Regions from separate parts of the Homo sapiens genome. Here regions 1, 3 and 4 are each linked to region 2. The links come from fine-mapping of genetic effects on gene expression. A gene starts in region 2. Each other region holds a variant in brackets. All regions are shown on one strand. Distances are between the middles of the regions. Region 1 overlaps CPNE3 (copine 3). Region 2 holds the start of CPNE3 (copine 3). Region 3 has its middle 53 kb from the start of CPNE3. Region 4 overlaps CNGB3 (cyclic nucleotide gated channel subunit beta 3).

The links. PIP is the estimated chance that this variant, and not a neighbour inherited with it, causes the effect.
Region 1: its variant is the best candidate, but not a certain one, in a credible set for the expression of CPNE3 in unexposed skin (GTEx, PIP 0.82).
Region 3: its variant is the best candidate, but not a certain one, in a credible set for the expression of CPNE3 in skeletal muscle (GTEx, PIP 0.84).
Region 4: its variant is the best candidate, but not a certain one, in a credible set for the expression of CPNE3 in whole blood (TOPMed, PIP 0.83).

Annotation. Positions count from the first base shown.
Region 1 is chr8:86,558,957-86,564,110 of GRCh38, forward strand. CPNE3 (copine 3) reads left to right here. Exons shown (of 17, transcript NM_003909.5): 17 at 1-2,542. Among named protein-coding and RNA genes, the nearest start is that of CPNE3, 47 kb to the left of the region's middle. The variant C/T (reference allele first, on the strand shown) is at 3,050.
Region 2 is chr8:86,512,010-86,517,163 of GRCh38, forward strand. It overlaps CPNE3 (copine 3), which reads left to right and starts at 2,426. Exons shown (of 17, transcript NM_003909.5): 1 at 2,426-2,532; 2 at 3,453-3,490. It also overlaps a transcript of RMDN1 not described here. RefSeq lists silencers at 2,395-2,474, 2,595-2,934.
Region 3 is chr8:86,565,097-86,570,250 of GRCh38, forward strand. No RefSeq gene overlaps it. Among named protein-coding and RNA genes, the nearest start is that of CPNE3, 53 kb to the left of the region's middle. The variant G/A (reference allele first, on the strand shown) is at 2,750.
Region 4 is chr8:86,572,108-86,577,242 of GRCh38, forward strand. CNGB3 (cyclic nucleotide gated channel subunit beta 3) reads right to left here. Exons shown (of 18, transcript NM_019098.5): 18 at 2,072-4,023. The coding sequence ends at 3,697. Among named protein-coding and RNA genes, the nearest start is that of CPNE3, 60 kb to the left of the region's middle. The variant C/T (reference allele first, on the strand shown) is at 2,394.

The DNA of each region.
Region 1 (5,154 bases), 47 kb after region 2:
TGGTTTACAAAACAGCATGCACTCAACTTGGGACTTTATGAAAAGTACTGAATGAGCAGGAAAAGGCACATACTCAGTTTTTTAAATGTACAATCAACAAGTAAAAATAACCTCATGTAAGTAAGCCATTTTTATTTGCCTTTCTAGATATTTTATTTTATTGTGGAAAACTGTAAACATGGTCAGATTTGGCTTTTTTTTTCATTAACTGAGCAAGACTTTCAGGATATTGTAGATGCACAGATGGTAGGTTGTCCTGAATTCTACATTATTAGATTACTTTAATTGAGATTTGTTAAAACGGTTAGGACTGTTTTGTCCAGGAAAGATAAGAGGACCAAACATATAAGGTGAAATTCAGAATTCCGTTTCCTTCTAACTAATGAAAAACTGCTTACTAAAAAAAAATTTTATACTTTCCTTGCTAAGGTCCCATATATTGATTTGTACAGATCCACTTAGTCATTTTCTCCTTTTTTTAAGAACCATTTTCATCTGATTTTTAAACTCACGATACCAGTTATCTGTTAATCAAAATTGCATTTTACAATTTAATAATGTGATATTTCCTATGTCTACAGCATACCTTATTAGGTATAAAACCTACTGCAACTTAGAAAAAGGAAAGAAAAAAGAAAACTTTTCCAACTGCTGCATTAAGATAGGGTGGATTTTATGTGCTTTTTTTTTTTAAGAGTTGAATTTCTTTTCCTGACTTTTACCTTTTACAGCGTATTACTTAGTGAACATTACATTTTCAGAATAGATCCTAATATTTTATTGAGGGCCTATGTGCTAAAAACTATGCATATCTATATATTGGCCAATTATCTTTAATAATTTACCTTTTGAAATTGCATGTTTATCATATATCCTTAAGTGGACACATACAGTGCCATGTTGATGTGCCTCTCAGTTTTATTGAAAAGCTGCCCCACAGCCCATGTCTCTTGTTCTCTGCAATGCCTCAAGGGAGTGAGCTCTCAACCACAGATAGCTGTGGCTTCTCAGAAGCAGCTCATTGCCAAGGCCAGGCTGAGAGGGGACCTGCTTGCTGTGGTGGTTGCCTAGCCCAGATGAGCATTTACCTACCACCTTCCCACTTGGCTAGCTGTCCTTTGGATATGTGCTGTTAACTGGGGAAGGCATCTAACTAGTAGCCTGCTACTCCATAGTATGGCTCAATAGATGACACATCATTTTGACATTATCAATAGGAGAAAAGAAAACTAACCCTTCTTCTGATTGTTTGGAGCCATAGTTGTCTCAGATGTTCTAATTCTCTTTGTATGCTTGGAAACAGCATAGATATGTTGCTGTGGTTTTCAGAATTTTCTCTTTTAATCACAAGAAGCCTTTTAAAAAATGACTTACACATATTCTCAATGTACAGTAAAACAGACAGAAGTGAGCTTATCTGTTTGATGCTGTGGCAGGGTCCCAGTCACTGGGCATATCCTCCTTCTCCTTAACCAGCTCCACAGCAGCCCCTGAGTCACCTGCACAAGGTGCTTGGGAACTGCTGGTTATGAGCATTCCTGGTTTTCTTCAGCCAAATAACAGGTAATCACTGTCAATTGGATTTGGTCTTCATTATTTTATATTCTGATTTTATCAGAATTATTCTATTTTAAAATTGTTTTAAAATTTAAAACATTTAATTCATGATCATGTTCATCAGTAGATGCTATTATTCATAAGAACTGTGATTCCAGCAAACTAGGGTAATTGGTGCCTTTTTACAGTTTTGAATAAAAGCATTTACAATTTCTAAATTATCAGTTTTCACAGTTTCAGCACTCAACCTCATCATACGCTGATTTAATATTGTTTTACATTAAAATAGTCCTTTTCCCTGTTGTGCCACCATTCATTTAAGTGCTGTTTGTTCTTAAAATGCATTTAAAGAAAAATTACCCATATTGACTTTCACACCTCATATAATCAGATCTATTACAAATATATATCGGAGTGACGGTGCCCAGGATAGATGTAATATTTCTTACAGATGCTGGCACAGAGGAAATAATATACCAGCTAATCTAGTCACCTAACCTTGTGGTTAGAATTGCAATTTTAAGACCAGAAAAATTTGAAGTCTGATCAGAGATTTACAACTGTTCATTATAGTGGTGCCTTAGGCAATCTTTCCAAAGTAAATTCAGGGCCCCATTGCTACTTATGCCATATTTGGACATACTTTTTTTTTCTTCAATTTTGTAAACTTCCTGGAAAGCTGTCTTCACTAAGTATCCCCTAGTCTCTATATATGTGGTTAGTAGTCATGGAAATGACACATAAAGTACGCCAGAAGTTTGATGGAACGTGTTAGAAACTGTTTTGTGCTTTTATGGATGTCATACTTGACAATACATGTGTAAGTTACTAATATATGAATTGATGCTAAATATATCTTACATTTGAATTCCTTTTGGATAAAGTTATTTCTTGATGTGACAGAGTAGTGTGTTTTCATTTTTATTCTTTACATGTGACCAAAACAATAGAAAAGTTAAAAATAAAATATAGTGTTTTAGGTGGCCTTTGACTTCATATTTTACTGAATTAAACAATTTGGGGGATATTATTTTATGGGATTTATTTGTTTAAAAGATATTGAGTGGGTCCAAGATACTCTTCTGGGTACAGTAAAGGAAAGATTCTTAGCTTATAGCTAGAATGGCCTGAGATTATCAATCATGTTAAGAAGGATAGTGTAACCACCTAATTTTAAAAAAAATGTTTTAATTGCTTTTGTCATGGGCATTGGGCAGGACTTTGCCAGTGGTAACCAAGACAGCCACGATTGCTGCCTTTGTAGAAATAATGGTCTAGTGGGGGAGAGAAAACATTGAGCAAGTAATTATAGAGATGTGAGATCTGTGCGTGAAACAACATACAGTAGAGAGAGACCTAACCCATCTGAGAGGCAAGGAGCACTTCCCTGAGGATGTGCCATGTAAGCTAAGACCTGAAAGTTAGCTAGGTGAAGAAGGTTAAAAGCACTTATGAAGCTGTCAGGCCAACAGCAAGTATAGAGTTGAATGTT[C/T]TAGGAGTGGACAGAAGTTTGAGTTTGCTGAAATATAAAGTATAAGAGGGAAAGTGGTAAAAGAAATGAGGTGGAGTGGTTGGTGGTGTTTACATCCTGAGGGCCTTTTGGGGCAGGTAAGGGAGTTCAGACTGAGGCTTAGGGTAATGGGATGCCACTAAATTGATTTAAGCAAATGAATGATGTGATTATATTTGTGCATTTGAAAAACCAGAGGACCATACTTTTTAGGGCAGACAGATGAGTTCAGAAGCCCACAGAGTTCCACATGGAACCCTGTGACCAAATGTGGGTCTAGTCGCAATGGCTTTGCCTTGGTGAAGGCCAGATGGCAGAGCTGATAGTGGTCACCTTCTGGCAGACACTCAGCTGTTTGGTCACATACTTTCTAAGTGTCTGATTCTAGGTCTGTTTCCAAATTCTGAGCTTTTCCTGCCTCACTATCAAATTGTCTGGTAGACCCGTATCTTGTTGGTTCCTTAATGGTGCAGAGGCTGGTTCAGACCTGGTGATAATATGTCTTCAGGAATGCCAAACCCTTGCATGTAGCAAGACCATCACCCTTGTCACTTGTCACCAAATAACATCACTTCCTGATCATCACTACATTTGGCCAGATTCTCCAGAAAAACCACAGTAGTTTGAAATGTCCATACAGAATTACACTTTGGCTTGGCTGTTGATTCCTTCCTCCAAAATGATGGAAAGTATTATTATAAGCAGAATTGTGACTTCTTACTGCTTGGGAAAGGAGAGCTATCTCTGGTCTTTCATCAGCAGATGCTTACAAAGCATTTATTGGTGCTCACAAAGCACCAAGTTTTATAGCAGCACCTGGTCTTCTAGGACTGGAATCAGAAGAATTTCAAGGATGGGGAGCTTTAAGGAGTTCTCAGAGAAAAGTCTGAGTAGGAAATAATTTGCTTTTTTCAACCATCCCTTCCTTTCAGTAAGAAGTATTCAATTTTTCTTTGAACAAATATTTATTGGGTAGTCTATTACTGGCAATCAACAGGGGAATTCAAACAGAGTAAAAAAATTCTTGCTGACTTCAAAGCTTATGATCTAATATGGAAAAGGAGACAGTATATATGTTAAACAGAACAAGAGTGAGCAAGGTGAGGGACTCTGCTGTGTTGGAGTAAGACTGGCCCTTCTTGTGCCTTCAGGCATCCATGGTGATGAGGAAAGAGGGTCCCTTGAATGCTGCTTCTGGAAAGATGCTTCTCCTGCCCATCCTGCTATCATTCATTGCTCTCCACTACCATCCTGTGATCACTGTTCATGCCAGTCCTCACAAGAAGCCCAGACCATTAGTTTCCAACCCCTGTATTCTGACTCCATATCCCACTTCTCTCCAGTGCCCCATACCCTTCCACTCTGCCCTCAAGAACTGGGTCGTTCATTAGCAGAAATTTCTGATATCAATGTTTTTTTCTGAATAGTCCCTTCACCTTTTAATTCTAATTAAAACCTGCCTCTCTTGAAGAACATTGCTTCCTCTGCTGCCCTCTCAAGTGATGGTAATTTCCTCTTCCTGATCTACCCCTGGGCTTGGAGGCTGCGTAGGTACCCTCCTTGATCCTCCCTTCTGCTTTCAGAGAGCTTTTCCCTCCTCTTTAAAACCTCTGGCTTTGAATCTTGCATCATTAGATTAGATCACTCTCTATCCCTCCTTATAATAATACTGCTCTCTATTCAACCTCAGCCCACATTCTGAAGGTCATATGCTAGACCTTATCGTTATTGATTTAAAAAAAACCCTCCCTGATCGCATTTTCAAGTATTCAGTTTTTCAATAACAACCACTTTTGCAGTTCACTCCCTTTAGTACCACAACTCTAACAAGTCTCCCTCCATGCCTTCAATCACAAATCCTACCAACTTCTCAGTGTCTCGATGGTCTGGCCCCTCCTGCTCTTTCCTTTTCTAAACTTCTTTTCTACTAATCTCTGCATTGTCATTCACTCCAACCACATGGGCTTTCTTGCTCTTACTTGAATATGCCTGGCATATTCCTGGCTCAGGGCTTTTGCACTTGCCGTTGCCCCTTCTTGAAAACCCAGCCTCCCCTAGCCACTTGGGAACCTTGCTCCCTCACCTCC
Region 2 (5,154 bases):
CTTGGTATCTAACATGAATTCAACACATGTTAAATTAATGGGTGAATGAATGAGAACAAAAGTAGAATGGGATTTAGACTGTAGTTAAGGAAAATGAATAAATACATTGAATAGCTATGGCACTATGTATTTAGATGATAGATTGCTGTTTGGATACTAAAAGTACAAAACCATCCCCTTGCCTCTACTCTTTCCCTATTTTAGTGTAAAGAAAAGTTTTGAAGGTTAGGTATGGATACTATATATTCTGGAAAATTTGAAACTTGCAATCCAATTAGTGGTGCCTAAGAACCTTCATTTACATGTGAAAGTAGAATCAAAAATAGAGCCAGAAACCTTTAGTAAAAACTAAAACACTTGTAGTACCTCCCCAGTACACTTCAGCAACAAAGGCCTTGTTTCTGCACTGGCAGTTTGTTCTTATCTTTGCCCCTGCTACCATTCCTGTGCCCCAGATATTTGCATAACTGGCTGCTGCTTATTTTTCAAATCTCAGATCAAATACCATCTTAGAGAGCTCTTTTCAGATCCCCAGTCTAAATAAGCTCACACTATCCTCAAGTCCCTCTATCACATCACCCTGCCTTAACTTTTCTCATGGCACTTCTGGCTGGCTGAAATCTCATTTGTCTTTAACAACTAACTTAAGATTCAACCGTCCTCTAGGATAGAAGTTCCTGTCTGTCTTGCTCACAAGTCTAGAGCAATGCACATAGTGTTTGTTGAATAAATGAATGAATCCTCACTGGCACTGATACGATTTTAAAAATGTTTAATTTGCAGGCCAGGCACGGTGGCTCACACCTGTAATCCCAGCACTCTGGGAGGCCAAGGCTGGCAGATCACTTGAACCCAGGAGTTCAACACCAGCCTGAGCAACATAGTGAGACCCCATTTCTTAAAAATAAATAAAATAAAAATGTTTAGTTTGCATTTCTTGGATTAAGAGTAAAGTTTTTACTTAAGAATGTCTGTGTTTCTTCATTTGATACCCTTTCCATTTCTTCTGTAATTAAAAAAAACCTTCACCCATTTTTCTATTGGGTGTTTTTTTTTTTCTTATCAATTTAAATGAACTTAAGAGGCCAGGCACGGTGGCTCACACCTGTAATCTCAGCACTTTGGGAAGCCAAGGTGGGTGGATCATCTGAGGTCGGGAGTTCAAGACTAGCCTGACCAACATGGAGAAGCCCTGGCTCTACTAAAAATACAAAATTAGCTGGGCATGGTGGCACATGCCTGTAATCCCAAGCTACTCAGGAGGCTGAGGCAGGAGAATCGCTTGAACCCGGGAGGCGGAGGTTGTGGTGAGCTGAGATCGCGCCATTGCACTCCAGCTTGGGCAACAAGAGCGAAACTGCGTCTCAAAAAAATAAAAATAAAAAATAAATGAACTTAAGATACTAACTCTGTCAGGTTTGGGACCAATATTTTTCCCAATGTGTTTTATTGATTTTGTCCCTGTTTCCTTGGGAAGAAGTTCTAAATTATCGAGCAGTCATGTATCAATATTTTCCATAGTGTTTTGTTTAGCTGCAGGCAGCATGGAGTAGCAAGCAGTCCAGCCTGCACTTTGAGGTTAGTTTACTTACAATTTGTGTGACTTCAGAAAAGTAGGCCAATTATTTAGCTTCCAAATCTCATGTTACTCAATTGCAGTTTTCATTTGTAAAATGGGTATACTGGCACCAAATACATCACAGAATCATGAGGATTAAAGGTAATGAAGGATATAAAATGTCCTTGGTAGTGTGCACATTAAGAATGCCCTAAATAAGCATATAAGCATGGTTAACAGCTAAGATGTATTTCGCTATTTTCATGTTGATAATTTGTCTTGGTAACTTTTTTTTTTTTTTTTAAGACAGGGTCTGTTTGTCACCCAGGCTGGAGTGCAGAGGCACGAACATGGCGCACTGCAGCCTGAGCCCGTGATCCTTCTGCCTCAGCCTCCTGTGTAGCTAGGACCACAGTCGCGTGCCACCACGCCCAGCTATTTTTTTTTTTACTTTTTGTAGCGGTGGAGGGGGTCTCATTTTTTTGCCCCAGGCTGGGGCTGGTCTCCAACTCCTGGGCACAAGCCATCCTCCCACCTCTGCCTCCCAAAATGTTTGGATTACAGGTGTGAGCCACTGCGCCCAGTCTTCTCAGTTCAGATATGGCATAAATTTTCTCAAATATTTAAATTATTTAATCCTTAAGGAATTTATTTTGGTGCACCAAACCACTTACCTTAAAGTCAGTTTTGCCTTTTCAGTAAGCGACTGGCCTCCAGAATGGCCTCGAAGCGCCAGCCTACTGGCAAGGAGCTGACATGCAGCCCGGAGTCAGCTCCCTGCGGATGGGCTGATCCTCGCGCAGGCTGTGCGGGGCGGGCGCGCACTGGACCCGCCCCATCCCCGCCCCCTCCCCGCCCCCTTGCTCTGCCAGTCCAGCCCTAGGTTCTCCTGAATCCCTGCGGTCCCAGCGTCGCTCCGGACGCTGCCAACCTGTTCTCCACCGTCGCTCGACTTCCACCTCTAAGACTCCCACGTGAGTGCGGGCGTCTCCCAGTTCCTGGGCCGGTGAGGCAGCAGCCCAGCAACCGTACCGCCCGGGGGAAAAGGAAAGTCCTGGCCTGGAGGATCCGAGCCCGCAGGCTCCGTGCGGCAGGTCCCGCCGGGCCCTGCTGCTGGAAGTGCTCCGTGGGCTTCGCGCAGCTGGGGATCGGCAGGTCGCGGGGAGGCTCCCGAGCTAGGTCGCGGCCTGGCTGGACCCAGGCACCGCCGACGCCTCCTGGAGGAGCCCGGGCTCGGGGCTCAGCTCCGGGCCGCAAGGCCCCGCCTGGGCCTGGCGCTCGCGCACCTGGGGCTGGGGATAGGCTGGGATCCGCCCTCCTTCCCTGGGCGGAGAGGGTCGGGCTTGTGGCCCAGAGAAGGGTGACAGGTCCCGAAATCGCTGCAGCACCACGCGGGGAGAGGGATAGGGTACCCACACCACGTCCGTGGTGAAGCCAATGCCCAGTTGAGCGGGGGGCGCGCGCTTCAGAGCACCCGAGAAGCTGGCAGATGGAGTGGGAAGAGGTGACTCTTGATTTCAGGGTAAACAAGGAGATTGTGAGAAGTAGTCTAGCAGCTCCCGTTTCTCCTCCAGCTTCAAGATTCTTCTGTCTAGTGTTTTGGGTTCCCTACACCAGGATTGTGGAGGAAGCGCACGGCCAGAACCCGTTGGGACCGAGCAGATCAACCATTTATGTTGCACTTAATGATCATCTGCACTTTTTGCATATCCTTAGTGTTGTCTTTGTGAGGCCACCTCTATAATGGATAATCAAATAGAGGGAAGGGCGGGATTGAATATTGTGACTTGATTTCAATGTCCCACAACAACTGTGCTAGACAGTTTTTATATGTTAGGTTATTTAACGCTCCCAAGCACTTATTAAAGTGATGTTACTCTGTTTCATTCTCCAGGAAACTCAGGTTGAATAATTCATCAAATTACACAACTGGTAAGTGGTGGCATTAGGGTTTGGAATTCAAGTCCGTATGGTTTTAGGGCACAGGCTTTATTGCTTAATGTAAAAGAACATTATTCTTTGGGATAAGCCAGATACCTAGGTTTCAAATCTATGCTATGAGGGCTGTTAGCTGTATGACCTTGGGCAGGATACTTCACCTTTTAGGGCCTGTTTCTGCATTTGTGAAATAGAGATAAAATGTCACAAGGTTGCTATGAGAATTAAATTAGATCCTACTTGTAAAACATTTAGCAAAGTGCTTGACACGTAGTTAGTGGTAAGCTATATATAGCCACATATATCCTGATGTCATTAATAAGGGTCAGCAAACTAGCTCTCTGTGTGTGCTGCCAGCCAGAGCCAAACAGAACTTGTGCAAGCCTAGAACATAGGTAGAGGGAAACAGCAAAGGATGGGAAACGAAAAGGGAACTGAAAACAGATGACATATATAATGGCAATTATAGTGACAACAATAGATGTCTCAGTCATTGATCTGTGGTACCCAGGGCCACTTTTTGCCTTTGCGAGAATTATTAATAGGTCAGTTCCTTTTGGCTGATGAATTGGAAAAATACATCCCACTCTGGGCTGAAAAATTTCAAACTCTGGGACTGGATCATTTTGAGACTCTAGATGTGAGGTGGAGCTGAATTTTAGGACCCCACAGACCAAAAGGTGCCTGGCACAAACCCCACAATGAAGTCTGCAGTTCTCTTTCAGGATTTCTTCTTTCAGGTCTAGTCCCTGAAGAATAGGAAGGGAGAGGAGGCTCCAGGACGGGAGAAACAGAAGGAGTGTTTGCCATTAAGGGTTGCATAATGACTGGACACCTCTTCTAATTTTACCTATAACTGTGAACACTTTATAGACAATGGTCTTCATTTTCATATAAGTTTATGGCAACCTATTATACATTTTAAAATATTTTATTTTCTATGCTCTTTATGATGGTATCACTGCTGCCCTGGGTATTTCCCTTGCAGCATCTGTTTCGGTACCTAGTTCATATTGTACTCCAACACCTATCAATTCTTTTATTTACTTATTTATTTATTTTATAATAAAGATGAGATCTTACTATGTTGCCCAGGCTGGTCTTGAACTCCTGGGCTCAAGTGATCCTCCTGCCTTGGCCTCCCAAAGTGCTGGGGTTACAGGTGTGAGCCACCACACCCGGCCCTATCAATTCTTGGTATGGCTTATCCATTGTTTCCTTTGCCTTCTTTATTTTTTGGTACTATCACTGGGCTTTTTTTCTTACTATTGTTAGAGTTTTCTCTTTTTTCCTCCCTTTCAAATGTTCTTTAGTCAGTGATTTATTATGCTAGAAAGTATGCCTGTTAGCAAAACTATAAAAGTTAATGTTAGATGTGAAAAATGATTATATGTCATTTGACCTTCAAAGATTCATAATGCCACCACTGCTCACCAAAGCATGATATTTCAGGTGGATCTTTTAGCAAGACTCAATGTCACTTCCATTGGTGGTACTCAGTGACCTGCAGGAGTCCTAACTAGAGCATTCCTTTACTGTACCCACCATTACCTTCAGCCTACAATCTAGCTTCCTTCCCACCAATATTTTCCCTTCTTGTTCTTGCTTGTGAGTGGGAATCGTATTGGGGTTTTTTTTGGAGAGACTATTTATTCTTT
Region 3 (5,154 bases), 53 kb after region 2:
AAGATCTTGGAGAGCTTCATGGATGGTTTGACATTTCATCTGGGATTTAAAGGTTTTATGGGGCTTTATAATGTAGAGAAAGCGGAAGAGCCTTTCAGCAAAGAAATTGGCATTGTCAGTGGCATGGATTAAGAAAGCGTGGGTTGAGAAACATTGTTAGTATAGGGAGATGAATGTATGAATGAACCGTTTTGTTTCATAACTAAATCTCTTTATTCACTTTTACAAATGTGATATTGAAATTCAAACAATATTGATCTTCCACATATTTTATTTCTTTATTTTTTATAGAGACAGGGTCTCAAACTCCTGGCCTCAAGTGATCTGCCTGCCTTAGCCTTCTAAAGTGCTGGGATTACAGGCATAAGCCACCATGCCCGACCACACATATTTCTATTTTAATGAAATCTGTGGTTAGTCCTTTTCTGAAGGACATGCTAAATCTGAATTTTTCCTCTCAGATTTGGAATATAAATATGGTCCTAACATGGCAGACTTGATCATCATTTGACCCCATAAAATCTTGGCAAATGTACTTGTTTATTTGAAAAAGGCCTGCTTTAGGTGGATGCTACTTTTATCAAGCCTTTCCATGGGCTTCATGTTTGAAAAGCATGTGTTATCTTTTGACCTTGAACTCTGCTTTACTCTGGCGTAGCCCTGGACAAAGGGTCTTATTACAAAACACGAATGTTTTGTAAAATGGGACTTGGGGTAGGAATCGTTAAATTCCCTTGCAAGTCTAAGATTCTGGTGTAAACAACAGAGCTTGATTTATTCAAAGCTGGATGCAAGAAGCTGTATCACGAGCCCAGTTAATAACCCTTAGCATACACTATATGCTGAATTCTGTATTGCTTAGGATTCCCAGCAGAGAGGATTCTCATAAATTTGTGGCAGAATCATTGTGTGCATTGGGCAGAGATGACTAGAGGTGCAAACGGACAGTAAGGGGGCTGTGACCTTTCAGGTATCACTCCCTTTCCTCATCCGAGGGAGTTATTATCTAGAAATGTCAGGTTGCATTGCTTAATGATGCACATTTATTTGACCTTTGCACCGTCACTTCTAGTCACAAAAGTTATAGTAGGAAAAATACAGTCAGTCATAAAAACCCATAGAGAAAAACATCAAATTTTACTACAGCGTGTGGGTATGGTACTTAAAATATCAGTTTCAAGTATCTTTGGTCTGATTAGTTATAATAAATTCCAGAACAGCATAATGATTAATTAACACCTTCTAAAGATTTAAAAAATTCCCGTAGGTGGGTAAAGGCATTATTGTAAATATAGAACAGGTCCAAATTACTAAAAGTACAGATTCTTCTCTTATTGGTTTTCTGTGTAGCAATTTTTCATCTAATACAACTGAAATAAAATAGATTTTTATATATCAAGGGTGTTCAATCTTTTGGCTTCCCTGGGTGACATTGGAAGAATTGTCTTAGGCCACACATAAAATAAACTAACACTAATGGTAGCTGATAAGCCAAAAAAAAAAATTTACAAAAAAACTCATAATGTTTTAAGAAAGCTTACAAATTTGTGTTGGGCTGCATTCAAAGTTGTCTGGGCTGCATACGACCTGCAGGCTGCAGGTTCGATAAGCTTATTATATATTATGTTAAGAGGGGACCAAGTTACTCCTTTCCTTTGAGTATACTTAGAGCTTTCGGCCCATTCTAATACTACAATTGGTGAAGTTGTGCAATTCATTTTATTTTTCTTTTTTTAAGTCCTTCTTTGTTTATAGACAGAGTCTCACTGTGTTGCCCAGGCTGGATTGCAGTGGCATGATCTTGGCTCACTGCAACCTCTGCCTCCTGGTTCAAGTAATTCTCCTGCCTCAGCCTCCCAAGTAGCTGGGATTATAGGCACCCGCCACCATACCCAGCTAATTTTATTTATTTATTTATTTATTTATTTATTTATTTATTTATTTATTTTTGAGATGGAGTCTTGCTCTGTCGCCAGGCTGGAGTACAGTGGCGCGATGTCAGCTCACTGCAACCTCTGCCTCCCAAGTTCAAGCGATTCTCCTGCCTCAGCCTCCCGAGTAGCTGGGACTACAGGCATGCACCATCATGCCTGGCTAATTTTTTGTGTTTTAGTAGAGACAGGGGTTTCGCTATGTTGGTCAGCCTGGTTTGGAACTCCTGACCTCAAGTGATCCACCCCCCTCAGCCTCCCAAAGTGCTGGGATTACAGGTGTGAGCCACCGGACCTGGCGTTTTAATTTTTTTTTTTGAGACAGAGTCTCGCTCTGTCACCCAGGCTGGAGTGCAGTGGCACGATCTCAGCTTACTGCAACCTCTGCCTCCCGGGTTCAAGTGATTCTTTTTTCTTGTGTCTCATCCTTCCAAGTAGCTGGGATTACAGGTACATGTTACCACGCCCAGCCAATCTTTTTGTTTCTTTGTTTTTTTAGTAGAGACGGGGTTTCACCATGTTGGGCAGGCTGGTCTCAAATTCCCAAAGTGCTGAGATTACAGGCGTGAGCCACTGCACCTGGATGAAATTGTGCAATTTAAAAGTCATTTCTAGTTCCAAGTTCTCTCTTGTTTAAAGAAAGGTTTTGCTTATTTTTGACGTGGTCCTTGTGTGGGGTTGGCAGATTTAGCAAACAAAAATACAAGATGTCAAGTTAAATTTGAATTTTGGACAAAAATGAATATTTTTTCATATAGGCAAGTCCCAATTATGGCATGGAGCATATCTATACTAAAAAATTATTCAGGCTGGTCATG[G/A]TGGCTCACGCCTGTAATCTCAGCACTTTGGGAGGCTGAGGTGAGCAGATCACCTGAGGTCAGGACTTTGAGACCAGCCTGGCCAACATGGTGAAACCCCGTTTCTACTAAAAATACAAAAAGTAGCCAGGCGTGATGGCACACGCCTGTAATCCCAGCTACTCGGGGGGCTGAGACAGGAGAATCGCTTGAACCCGGGAGGTGGAGGTTGCAGTGAGCTGAGATCGTGCCACCGCACTCCAGCCTTGAGCAACAGTGAGACTCCATCTCAAAAAAAAAAAAAAAAAAAAAAAAAAGGATTCATTAACTGAGTGTCCTGTGTTTTATGTGACAATTCTGTTTGATAGATTGAAAAATGGCCAGAATCCTTCCGCTGCCTCTGGATCCACTCCTTTTGCAATGTGACTTTGCTGTCCCCCCATTAAGAAGTGGATTTCATTTCTCTACCCCTTTAATCTAGGCTGGTTTTGTGACTTACTTTGGCTAATAGAATGTGTAGACATAATGATGTGTGAATTCTGAGCCTATGCCTCAAGAGCCTGGCTCACTTCTGCTTTGTCTCCTCTCAGAACCTTGTGCAGTCTCCACACCCAGTGTACCCATTTTCAGGATGACAGACCATGTGGTTAGAAAAAAGCTGTCCCATCTGAGACTGTCCTGAGACTGTTCTACACCAGCCAGCCCCCAGTCAATCCGGCAGCTGACTATAGAGCATGAATTAGCCCAGCTAAGACCAGAAGAACGAGCTCAAATTGGCAATCTATAGAAACCAATAAATGATTCAGGAGCTAATAAATGATTATTTTAACTTACTACATTTTAGTTAGCAAAAGCAAATTAATGTAGTTTGACAATGCAAAATAGAGCTGGGCATTTTTAAGACCAGAGGACAGCTTATAGGTTGTGCTGAGTTTTGGAGGCCACAGATAAAAGTGAAATAGAAGGTGATATTATAATCAATTTTGAGCAAATAACACTTGGAATGGCTTCAGTGAATCAGAGGAAATTGCTTGTTGAAATAAACACTTGTGCCCACAGGGTGAAAAAATTACTTCTTATAGAGATATTGTTTTCCTTCTTTAACTATTTAAGATTTAAAATATAGAACCTCTGCTGAGTGGCTTCTTCCTTCTTTCTCTGCAGATCTTATCATGATACATCTCTTTTAACCAGCCCATGCTGCACTGTATTTCTGGTGATTAATTGTCGAGGTCAGACCTGGGCAGTGAGGAAAGACCTGGTCTGGGAAGAACTTTCATATATAATAAGTCTTCACTTGACATTAACCAATTTTACCATAGGCTGATTAGTATAAACAAGAGTTAAGTTCCCATGGCATATTTCTGGTCATAAAAACATCACCAAACTTCAAAATAATGACCAAGACACCTATAATATTAAACATTGAAATAAGTGTGAGCTGTACGCACATTTAGGAAAGATTAATTAAAACAAGATAATTACTTACTCAATTATTCCAGTTCAGAGTCTCAGGTGACCTAAGAATATCCCAGCAGTGAAGGACACAGGTAAGAACTGACCCTGGAAAGGATGCCATCCATCACAGGGTGCATTCACACACACCCACACACTCACACACATGCACACTCACACACACCCACACAATCACACATGCCCACACACACACACATACCCACACACACCCACATTCACAAACACACACACCCACACACACACACAAACACACTCCCACACTCACTCCGACTGGGACCATTTAGACACAGCAGCCCACCTAACAGGCACTTCTTTGGGACATAGGAGAAAACTGGAGAAACCCACACAGTCATGAAAAGAACGTGCAAAATCCATGCAGACAGTGGCTGTAGAGAGGAATCTATTTTTTTCTCACTCATGTTATAACAAAACGACATTGTATGTAACTACATTACTTGAGGACCTGCTGTATCTATAAATCATCAATTAATTAGTCAAATGATTAATGAACATGGACTATAGGGAGTCCAGAGAAGAGATATATGTGGATTAGCAGTAGTAGGGAAAGAAAGAAGTAGGGAAAAGCTCACCTATTATCTCTGGGGACCCCTGGATGTCTGGATTTTAACTCTTGGCCAAGATAAGGGCAGTGAGAATAATGCGGTGTTTAAAGTGCTAAACTCTGGCGACTCCGAGTCAGTTTCTTCACTAAAGGTTTTCTAGTGATCTAATTGGTTAGGCAGCATGCCTTTGATATGTGGAGAGAGGGGTATATGAAGCCCACTGTTGATTTTATAGCTTTGAGCTCTCCCAAAGCCTAGATTCCTTGCACAGATCTTGGTGGTTCAATCCCTGAGACAGAGTCTGGTCAGATCCTTGTGTAACCACCTTGGGGAGCTTGCTCATGGGATGATTGTCAGGCTCCCACTGCTTGCCTGTGCTCTTTTTCT
Region 4 (5,135 bases), 60 kb after region 2:
TTCATTCTTTTTTCTTTTAAACAAACTATACTAGTATTTTAAAAATATCTATCCTTTTTGCTTTATGTAAATCTAATTCATTACTTCTAACTGCTGGATAGAACTTCATCTTACAAACACAACTATACTCCCACACACCATATTTTTTTTCCCATTCTCCTAGAGGTAGATATTAGAGTTGCCTCCAATTCCTTTGTACTATAAACAATGCTATATATCCTCATGGATTTCCTCTTATGGACCTGCTTAAGAATTTTCTGGCATATATACTCTGAAATGGTACTGCTGAGTTCTAAGGTGTGCTGCCAAAATTTTGCTAAGATTGCTAAAATAGTAGAGCCAGTGTACACACTTGCCAGCACTTGGCACTATTATCTGCTTTCAAGTATTTTTCCAGTTAGATGGGTATAAGGTGGTATTCCATTTTGTTCTGATTTGTATTTCTTTGAGCACAAGTGAAGTCAAGCACCTTTTCTCTGTCAATTGCTTATTTGTTTTTCTTCCATGAATTACTTACTCATATTCTCTCTCCCTTTAAAAAACTGGGCTTTTTGTCATTATGCAAAGAAAGCACAAGAGCTAGTTGCCTTCTTATAATTTATAATTAAGCAGAAATAATTTACAATTAAGAGGAAATTAGAGGACATGCTGTACTATGTGGCACTTCCTGAAAGTACAAAAGATAATCCCGTGAGATAGAACCATCATAGGTTGATGTTTTTAGAGGCAGTTGGGAGACAGAAAATGTGAGCAGAGTTGGAAGTATAGGACAGAGGTAAGTGACGGAGGAGAGACAACAACCTTCCAGAGTAAGGCAGGCAGCAGCGACAAAGGCCAGAGGAAGAAGGGCAGGTATTTGTTCCAGAGAAAAAGCAAGGAGACCCACTTAAGTGGAGGATATGGTTAGGGTAGTGGAAATTAAATTTGTATAAATAGGATTTAACTGGTAGGAGGACTAGTAGGTTCCTGTGATGATTGGTTTTTTGTGTCAACTTGATGGGGCCACAGGATGCCCAGATAGCTGGTAAAACATTATTTCTGGGTATGTTTGTGGATGAGATCAGCATTTGAATTGGTGGACAGAGTAAAGCAGGTTGCCCTCCCCAATGTAGGTGGGCATAATACAGTTTGTTGAGGGCCTGAATAGAACAAAAATATGGAGGAAGGGAGAATTTGCTCTCTTGGCCTGGTTGCTCATCCTGGGACATTAATCTTCTCCTGTCTCAGGCTGCAACCTTTACCATTAGCTCTCCTAATTCTCAGTCCTTTGGATTCAGACTAGAGCTACACCACCAGCTCTCTTGGGTCTCCAGCTTAAAGACTGCAGATCATGGAACATCTCAGCTTTCACAATTGTGTGAGCCAATTCCTAATAATAAATCATGTATATATAAAATATATAAATAAAAAACATGATAAATATCTCTATATGATATATATTAAAATATATAATAAATCTCTACACATATTTGTAATATATAATATATATTTAAATATATTTATTATAAGGAATTGGCTCATGAAATTATGAAGGAAAAGAAGTCTCATGATCTACCATCTACAAACTGGAGTCCCTGGAAAGCCCGTTGTATAATTTTAGTCTGAGTCTGAAGGCATCAGAACCAGAAGAACCAGTGGTCTAAGTTCCAGTCTGAATCCAATGGCCTGAGATAGATATATATCCCCTATTTTTTTTTTCTCCCTCTGGAAAACTCTAATACAGCCACTGAGCAGGGAAGTAACATGGTCAAAAGTAGGGTTTTAGAAAGATTTTATTTTCCAATAGCAAAGGGACTAAGAGGGCAGACCAGTGACAAGAGCAGACTATAGGTAAAAAGTGAATGTTTATTTGCATTGAACAGAAAATATGTTCTGGGTGTTAGCAATGGGATTGAAAAAGAAAGGATAATTAGAAAGATTTAAAAAGAAAAAGAATTTGGTGGCACCAAATCAACAATAAAAGAGTTCTTGAATTTTCTTAGATTTTAGTCTGATGGATTGGAAATAAATTGATATTATCTGAAACAGGATAGCTTGGGGGGGAAAATAACTGCCAGGCGAAAAGCATAAATTGCAATGGTCTTGTATTTTAATATCATTTGAATAAATTACAGGGTGTAAAGGGAAAGCATATTGCTCACAAGTTGAGGACTTTTGTCCTTTTCTTTTCCTATTATCAGATGCTTCAGCCCTATTCTACCTTTTGTTTCTGGGTTTTTAAATCACCCTTTTTATACGCAATTCACTCTTTCTGCATACAAACTCCCATTTATCAAATAAATACTATTTAACAATTTGTCCATATTCCCTTAAATCCTGAAAAAACCAACCATCCTTTAGTAAAACTTGTTATATTTTGTGATACTCTAACACTACATGCAAAAACGGTGACT[C/T]TATCAAATGATGCAGTTTATTATAGTGATTGATTTGTACATGGTTTGCTAAATGCATCTATGTTGTAGGCTTTTTGGCTAATATGATTTGTTAAAACCCTCTCAGCAAAGTGCTGTTACAGTGACCATCTTTGGAGACTTGGAAATAGCCTCATTACACAGAACTTGATGTTATACACTAATGGCATTTATTAGAATGGAATTCTATATGTATTATTACTTCCGACACCAGCCTGGCCTTTGTAGCCTCCTCACAGCATGCAACGTCGGTAATTATGCTAATGCTAGCTAATTCATGAGGACAACTTCCTAAAGTGCCCTTAATTAACTTGGAGATTTTGTAAACAGCTATACATGTAGGTTCCGGAAATTGTGGGGATATGTCAATCTGACATGTGTAGAGTCTGCCTTCCTAACCTCATCACTTTGTTTTACTAAAGCTTAATTTTAAACAAGAAGTTCCAATCTGATATCTTTTCCAGCAAGTGCTTGAGGAAGATTCTGATAAGTGTCACTTTAGCCTGTATCCTCCAGTCCAAGTCCCTTGAGCCAGATGAGTTAGGTAGATTGGTGTCTTTTAAGTTGGTTAGAAGAGAAAATATTGAAGTTTATTTCTTTAGTAAAGGGTACAATTTTTCCAATATGTTCCTGCAATGTGATTTTGCCAGTTTGCTAATTCTGCCGACCAACATTGGTCTTCAGGGGACTGTTCCAAAAATCAGACTTCTCATTCAGAAAGCTTCATGATCTCTGCTTCCCTTCAGTCCCAGCTGCTGGGGATTTTTTGATATTACAGTGACTCATCATCCTCATTTGAATGAAAATAATCTGATTTTTGACCTATTACATTAAAATCTTATACCCTTTACATGTAAGAGGTGAAATTCATAAACCTAGAACAATTAGCCAGGCTTTAGAGTGCCAAAGAAGAAATTAAACACAATAAAAATTAAGAGAAAAGGTTAGTGAATCACATCACAGCCAAGAGCAAGCTAATAAAACTGGAAGGAAGAGACATCATCAGGAAAGAACCAAAGGAAAAGGAAACTTACTACATACAATTAGAAGATATAGCAATTGCATAAAGTTAATGAAAACGGAGAATAGGGATGGCTTTTAATAATCTTCTTATTACCACTGCATGAAATCACACTCTCAGATAAGTCCTAGAAACTAAGCTAGGGATTTGCCTTTCGTTTCTCAAGGGTCCCAGCATGTCGTTTCCCCTCGTTAATTTAAGTTACAATCCTAGGTACAATCACTTTGGGAACTAGCTATATCACATCTAAAGATAATCAAACATTTATTGCTTAGCCTTTTCTTTGACTTCAATAGTAAGAACCTCTTCTCCGCCCTCAGCAGAAGGAGCCATGCTGATAATGAGTGATTGACGAGAAGTCCCTCTGGGTAAAACTGTCCTTCTAACTGAGTGGGGTTCTTCCTCCACTGCAATAGGACTTGCTGTACATTCAGGTCTGTCCAGTGGCTTCTCTTCTGGCTCTCTTCCTTTATCTTTATCTTCATTTTCTTTTCCTTTATCTTCATTTTCTTTTTGTTTATCTTCATTTTCTTTTTGTTTATCTTCATTTTCTTTTCCTTCTTCCTCTCCTCCTTCAGAATTTTCTTTCTTCTGGAAGGAGCAATTACAAAGAACTGGTGTTGAAATCGTAATTAAAAACATTGGATTAGATTTTGATTAGCATGCAATGGCTAAGATCACCACCAAGACAGACTGTCTGAATTAAGTGAATCCAGGAATCATGTCTGCTTTGCTTCTGACTATCATTTGATGAAGTTTCTGGTGTGCTAGAGAATGGACTTGTTGCCTTTGACTCATGATGTTAGTCTGAATTGCATTTTTTTGTCTCTGCCAAGGAATTCTCTTCCTATTGGTCCTTATACTCTCTGAATTATTAGACTCAGTGCTCAGGACTCTGTTTTTGCTTTTTAAATATTTACTTATTCTGTAGAGATAAAATTTTAAATATTTATTTTTAATAAAAACATATTAACCAATACTATATAAAAATACTGTAAAAAGTAGGGTTTTCCTCTTGCCTAAGCTTGTGGGAGAACCTCAGGGAGAAACTTATCCCTTTCCTAGTATGATCTTTTCCATTTGTCCCACAGGTGCTTGACCTGTCATGTTTGTACCTATCGTGTTTAGCACTAGCTATAGAAATTTCATAGCAAAAGGTACACTATGCTCTTTACTGGTAATGCTTGGGATCAATTTGAGAAAGGCTTGCCTGACATATGAATGTGCACAGATAAAGTTGAGATTCTTAACACATTTACTTATATATTTCTTTACTCCCATACATTTTTTATGCAAATTATTATTTCTATGCTGATGCAAATGAAGCATTTGGTTTATACTGGATCCCTAACTTTCACCACAGTGTTGTATGTGTGGAAAAGGAAAATGCAAGTTTTCATCTTTTGTATGTGACTGACTTTATAATATGTGCTTTACTTATTTTCTGAAAGGTCCACAGCTACCCATTTCTACAGTTTTAGAGATAACATAATGACTAGGTTCAGAAAACCTGAATCCCTGCTCTGTCTGTTTCTCAATATCTGCCCTCATAGGCTAATTATGAGAATCAAAGAAATATGAAACCAAAAAAAAAGAGAGAGAGAGAGAGAAACAATAACATTTGAGTTTCTTTACATTTTTAGGAATTGAAAGGCAGCTTAGTGTAGGCCTGTAAGTCTGAACACCTGAGTAATAGCTTTCTG